Homo sapiens: one gene and its partner. The protein of the gene in region 2 purifies or fractionates together with the protein of the main gene of each other region. This does not show direct contact. Each region holds a gene or a part of one and is shown on either strand. Other genes may lie near its edges.

The links. The genes of interacting proteins can lie anywhere in the genome.
Region 1: the proteins of TPM1 (region 2) and CNTLN purify together in Homo sapiens (affinity purification with mass spectrometry; 3 studies listed by BioGRID and IntAct, with this or other methods). This does not show direct contact.

The regions. Positions count from the first base shown.
Region 1 is NC_000009.12:17,393,540-17,397,039, reverse strand, and holds part of CNTLN (centlein), read right to left. Parts: intron 2,507-3,500; coding exon 1,971-2,506; intron 1-1,970. UniProt on the Homo sapiens protein: Required for centrosome cohesion and recruitment of CEP68 to centrosomes.
Region 2 is NC_000015.10:63,045,747-63,049,246, reverse strand, and holds part of TPM1 (tropomyosin alpha-1 chain), read right to left. Parts: intron 3,214-3,500; exon of another isoform or gene 672-3,213; coding exon of another isoform or gene 540-671; intron 407-539; exon of another isoform or gene 1-406. UniProt on the Homo sapiens protein: Binds to actin filaments in muscle and non-muscle cells. Plays a central role, in association with the troponin complex, in the calcium dependent regulation of vertebrate striated muscle contraction.

The sequences.
Region 1 (3,500 bases), on a different chromosome or scaffold from region 2:
GTAGCTAGCACTAGAATTTCCTTGAAGACAGAGGAATAATGAGATATAAAGATAACGCTTAGTGGGTGGGAAGTAAGTTTTTACCTCTAATTGCTATTGAGAGAAGGAAAGAAGAACCTCGGTAACACCGAAATGGGAATGCAGATTTGGTCCTTTGGCCTTTCCTTCATGAATATGTTTTTTGAGTTTCTTTAACTGCCTGAGGACAAGGGGCTTGAGTAGATGATGTTTAAAAACAGTGTTTCTCAAACTTGTCTGCACATTGGATTCAACAGGGAAACTTGAAAAAATACTTAGGCCTGTATCCCACTCCAAAGGTTATAATTTAATTTGTCTGGGGTGTGACCTAACCTTTGGAATGTTTATAAAACCTCCAGGTGCTTCTAATATGCAAACAAGTTTGGGGACCACATTTTAAGGTAATTTTCAGTTCTATGTCTGTGATTAGGAAAAGTATCCGGAGGCATCCCAAATCTAAAACAGAATCACTATTAGGGATTTAAAAACAAAACAAAATAAAAAACTAGGGAAAATCAAGGACATATGTCATTATAAAACAAGGCAGAATTTTTAAAATTATGGCAAATTGGGCAATTTGTTAGCAATTATGGCAACACTGAACTTCCCTACTGTCTAGATGTAAAAAAGAGGTGTTCTATCATTCGTCTTTGTGGTTTTGTTACAAGAAAGGGTCCTGATCCAGACCCCAAGAGAGGGTTCTTGGATCTTGCACAAGAAGGAATTCAGGGCGAGTCCACAGTGCAAAGTGAAAGCAGGTTTTTTAAGAAAGTAAAGGAATAAAAGAATGGCTATTCCATAGACAGAGTAGCCCTGAGGGGTGCTGGTTGCCCATTTTTATGGTTATTTCTTGACGATATGCTAAACTAGGGGTGTATTATTCATGCCTCCCCTTTTTAGACCACATAGGGTAACTTGCTGATGTTGCCATGGTATTTGTAAACTGTCATGGCGCTGGTGCGAGTGTAGCCGTGAAGACAACCAGAGATCACTCTTGTGGCCACCTTGGTTTTGGTGGGTTTTGGCTGGCTCCTCTACCGTAACCTGTTTTATCAGCAAGGTCTTTATGACCTTTGTTTTGTACTGACCTCCTATCTCATCCTGTGACTTAGAATGCCTTAACCATCTGGAAATGCAGCCCAGCAGGTTTCAGCCTCATTTTACCCAGCTCCTATTTAAGATGGAGTTGCTCTGGTTCACAGGCCTCTGACAGTTTTACTGATGTGTTTCAAGTGCATATATGAATGTATAGCCAGGGGTAAGAGAAAGAAGCATTATAGATTTTTAGTATCCTCCTGTTGCTGTTCACTAGGGGTACATATCTTAAGACTAGGAATCTTTAGAGCTATAACTTTAAAGAACTAATTTTTAACCACCATTCAATTAAAGTTAATACAATGACTTTGCATAATACATACATAAAATAATTAGTGAAGATGGTTCTTAATTTAAAGGATGTTAAACAGCTTGTAGACATCTGGTAACAAGCTGAAATGGGTCATTCAAAATTTATCTAACTAAATTAAGGGGGAAAATTGTTTCTCCTCCCAGGTTGGTATGTCACAAGATAACTAAACCGACTTAGTAGGCTTGCCTGGGAATCCTTAGCTGTCAGTGGTGAATATGCAAAGGGCCAGCAGATTAAATCAACCTGCCAAACTGTCAATTTCAAGCCTCATGACTGCATGAAAATAGCATCACTGAAAGAAATCAAGCATTGCCTTCTTTTGGGTTTCCTGGCACCTATTCAAGTACTCATGCAGTTGTGGCTAATTTTGCATGCAAATTTCAGTCAATAAGCTCAGAACAAGACCTCCCAAGATATTTCAAAGGATCTGACAGTATTTTTTCTGAATACCAAATCGACAGTAGTTGAAATTCAATCTCCATTTGCTAGTGCTTTACATATGCGCAGTGTCCCCACCACAGAGCTAAGTTAATGAGAGCCTTACCTGCTTTCACTCACATCCTCCCAGCCGTCCTTGCTGAGGTTCTCAAACACATTGCTCATAACCTTGATGGAATGATTGAGAACAGTGTGGTGACGACCCACAGAGCAATTTTTCTTCGCAGCTTTAAATTTAACCTTGGTCATAGTTGTCTTACAATCATATCGTCCAGATCTCACTTTCATGGTGGCCATCTCGGATTTAGCTCTGTCTGCTGACTGGTGTGATTTCTCCATTGGGTTGATCAGCTCTTCATTTTCATTTCTCAATGCATTAGCTTCTGCCACTTGTCTCCTCAGGGAAGTGACTTCTGTCTCCAGCTCACTGATTTTTACTTGAAGTTCAGTATTTTCTTTTTCTACATCTTTACTCCCCTTTATTATCTGTTCTAGCTCTTTTTCTCTGGTCTCTGTATCTTCTTGTTGCTGTTTTAAGAGGGATTTCAGAAAATCATTTTCTTTCATTAATTTTTTATTCCCTTCTTTTAATTTTCTCGACCTTTTCTCAAAAGATTTCAGCCGATTTTCCAACTCAGTGACCTAAAGGAAAGAGTTTATTCTTTTAAGAATCCAAAAACCATAATCTACTATACTTTATTACCATTTCTAACTTATGAAATAAAAATCACATTTAGCACAAGGACAAAATAAATATAAAGTACTTAATTTCTAGATAATTCTAAGGCAGTGCAGATGAATACATTCAAAAATGCAATAATGTATCTGTTGAATAAAGGACAGATGGTAAAAGAAGGTAAAATTCTACACAGTGACAGAACTAAGTATGCTAATAAACTGCAGTGTCTTCTGAGATCATAAGTGCCTTGGCTATATATTCTATTCATTGTGGAAAAAAATATTTCAGAGAAAAATAATATACACAAATGTCTAAAAGTAGATAAACTGTAATAATAAATAACTTTTTTTCAATATTCGACAATCATATGAAAAAGGAATGACAATATAAAGTAATCTACTGAGGCTGCTTTTTTTCTAAATTAGAAAAATGTAATTTTAGTAGTCATGTGGTCCTCAGTTTATGTGATAAGGGAACAGTTTACTAAATAATAAAGTCTAACAATTTTAAATTATAATGATTTCAAGGTTGCACATAAATTAAAATTTTCCCATTTATTTCAATAAACAATGCTTGTGTTATAGGACATAGCAATGGCAACACACATTTGTTAATCTTAAGGAATTTCAAAATTATTTGAAAAGACCAACACCTGCATACATAAACCTAATAAAGGATATAATCTAAGTATCATAAGTCTGGGCAATTAATTCTAGTTCATAATTTCAAACATTTCATGGAGGAGTTGACTTACATTTAGATCTTATTAATAATAAGTGTTATTGTTTGTAAAGTACATTTTACTATTTACAAAATAGTTTCAAAAACATGATCAACATGATCTCTTCTGACCATCTCAAAACGTGAGGTATGTAGAACCAACAATTATCTTTCCAGACAGGAAAGAGAGGTTCTGAAAACTTAAATTTCACAGAGGTAAACTTTTCTGGGATTCAA
Region 2 (3,500 bases):
CAATGTCTGTCTACCGCCTCGGAGACACAGGCCGCCGGGAAACCACAGGGTCGACGGGAACGGCGGAGTGTAGCATCCCCGGGCCCCAAGTCCACAGTGCCTCTCCCACTTGACCTGTCGGCGCCCCTTCTCAAAGTACGGATCTCCAAGAGGAAGGACCTCCTCCCTCTCCACTCTCAGAGTAAAGCAAGCCAGCAGCGCAAAGTGCACCTCCCGGGGACGCACAGACACGACTGAAAGCCACCACCCCAGAAACAGACCCTTCCTGGGAAAATGCTCCTTCCAGAACCTTCTCAACACCACCCGTTTCCCCTGGGAGCGTTTACTTTGGATCAGCGAGATGGAAAACAAAGGCTCAGGAGAACAGGCCGGGCCCCTCCCCAGAGCCCGCCGCCAGCTGGCCCAGGTGCGCCAGGTGCGCCCTGGAGGCGTGGGGACGAGGGACCGGGGCCTGCGGGGGGGGAAGCAGGAGGGCCCTGCGGGGCTGCCCCGGGAGGATGCGCCTCTGGGGGCTGCGGGGTGATGGGTGTATCCCTTACGGTCTCCCTCAGCTTCCTCTCGTGGTCCAGCTCGCGCTGCAGGGTGCCCGCGCGCTCCTCAGCGGCGTCCGCCTGCTCCTGCAGGCTCCGGATCTTCCTGCGCACCGCCTCCAGCGAGCTACTCCCCGCCATCGCGCCGGACGGTAGGCGGGCGGGAGGGCTGCAGTGGGAGAGGCCGGCTGCTGCCCTGCGGACCCGGCTGCCGCGGCTGTCCTGGCTGCCCAGCGCCGGTCCGCCCCGCCCAGGCCTCTCTGTGCGATGGCGGCGCCCCCTGCGGCCAGGAGCAGTCCGGAAGTCGCAGCCTCCAGGGCTGCGCAGACAAACCGCAGGCGGGCGCGCGCGGCTGGGAGGGGCGCGCGCCGTGGATCCCGGGACTGGCTGGGGGCACTGCGCATGCTCGCGGCGGCGGGGAGAAAGGCGCTCCCGGCGCGCTGCGGGGGTACCTGGTGAGCTGGGCGCTCCGGGAGGCCACTGCACTAGGGCTCTGGCTTCCACTTCTAGGGCCCCTCCGCGGCGCGGTGGTGACCCGGGGTAACGGAGCTGGCTGCTAAGGGCAATAGCGACTCCTGCTGGCCGCGGGAGCGCTCCGCTCCCGAGTCCAGATTCCCATGCCCGGGAGCCAGAGAAGCTGAGCGGCGGGTCTGGAGCCGGAATATGCCCTAAAGGGCCTGATCCCAACCGCAAGATTATAACCCAAGCACTACCCCCATTCCCCAAAACTTCACGAAGTGAAAACCACCCGCGTGTAGAGCACAGTGGTTAGACCTCCTGTTCTAAATGCAGTTTTCCTAGGTTGACTCTGGCTCCTAGTTTCCTGCTGCGTGACTTCGGACACATTACCTGTCTTCTCTGGGCGTCATCTGTAAAAGTGGGAATAATAATAGTACTTTCCCCATGGGGCTGCTATGAGAATTATGAAGGACTGTAAAGCGCTTAGCACAATACCTTGTACATAGTTAAAAACTCAAATGATAGCTACGATTAAGAAATACACAAGCATTGTTTTAAGAGTCAGGCTGAGGCCCATAATCAGCTGTGTAATCTCAGGCCAGCCTCCCTGGGGCTCACTTTCCATGAAAACAGTCATCCAAATGGTCTCTTCTCTTTACAGCCTTCTTTGGTGTCAGACCAGCCTCTGAGATCTCCTGGAATCCAGTCAGTCCTGGGCTGGACTGGGATGCCTTTAAAAGGCACCCCAAGGAAAGCCACAGAACCCTATGAGAGAGCCTCTGGCTACAGGTGGAGAAAACCACCGCAGATACAGTCTCCACCGATTTCCCCCTTGAGCTGTATTCTTAAATGCCTTCTAAGTCTCAGGGCTTTTTCTCCTCAGGTTTGTCACAGAAAGCTCTTAAAGCCAGCTCCCTTATGTGTGGGAATAATAAAGAAAACATGCTTGACAACCCTCTCCTCCTCCAAGCCCTAACAAGGAACTTTTGCTTTCCTGCCTCATTTTCTGTGGAGTTCCTCACAGCCTCTGCTGAGACTCTCACAAATCCCAGCTTGGGTCCTTGCATCCTGTAGGTGGGAGCTTCTCGCTTTGTTTCCCCGCGGTTCATCTGGTCAGGTGGGGAGGTTACAGCTGGTCCCCTAAGTGCAGAGACTGTGGGCCTCCAACATTGAGAATGGGGGAACCGGGTGTCTGGCAACCTCCAGGAGCAGCCAGGAAACTGCTGGACACTGGCAAGTGCCATAAGCAGCCAACTAGTGACTTAATGTCCTGGGAAGGTCAGTTTCAGGTGAGTTCATTTTCATGCCGATGTCATTATACAAGAGTTTAGGAGAGTTTTCTCATCCTTGTCTGTAGGTTGGAATCACTTGGGTATTTTTTAAATGCTGCCGCCTGGGTTGCATCCCCAGGGATTCTGATTTAACTGGCTTTGGGTGCATCCTAACTTTGGGTTTTAAAAGCTCCCTAAGTGATTATGTTTAGAGAAGGTTGAGAATCCCTAAGTTAAGAAGTAAAGACCTACAAAGGGATAAAGACTCATATGCTATAAATATCAGATATATCACAGTTACTGGGGAAGAGATTGGGGGCCAGAAAAAAATGGAGTCTTCGATCCCCTTCAGCCTCACTTTTGACTTAGGTGGAAAGACAACACAAAATTCGAAACAAGACCATCAGGGATACTACTCCTGAATGACAATCTTCTAAGCTAGGTAGAGCCCACTTCCAGAATAGGATTTGTAAAGTAGTAGAAAAATGTTTTTAGTAATAATAGTAGAAAAATGTAAAAGTGTTTTACACTGGTGAATAATGACAATGAAATGTCCTAATCCCAAAGGTAATACGATTCCACCTCAGGAAGCTGACTTCTCCCTTACCGGACTTCTCCCTTTTTCTAGTGACATCTGTCTCTTCCTCCTCAAGTTTTGACTATTTTTTAGTAAATAAAAAACGAATACTCTCAATATGGTCATGCACTGCATAATGATGTTTTGGTCAATGAGGGGCTGCATATATGAGAGTAGCCTCATAAGATTACAATAGAACTAAAAAATTCCTATCGCCTGGTGATTTGTGTTACAATTGTTGACAGTATTCAGTACAGTAACACACTGTACAAGTTTGTAGCCTAGGTGTTTAGTAGGCTATACCCTCTAGGTTTGTGTAAGTACCATACACTCTATGGTGTTTGCACAATGAATAAATCACCTAACGACACATGTCTCAGACCTTATCCCCCTTCATTAATCAACAAATGACTGTATAGCATTTCTTCACTAACTTCTTCAATATTCCTACGGGCTCCAAACTCCAGACAACCTAAAGTGTCCTAAAAGGGAATGTGATCAATACACTATCAAAAAAGCCATATATGCCAGATTTAGGGGCAGTTTCCCGGTGGGAAAAATAACCAAAACAAGATTCAAGAAGCTCCCTCCCCTGCTGCTTCCCACACCAGCTGACTTTAAATAACTTCTTTCCCATTTCTGCCCCACCCCATTCCAGCGCTC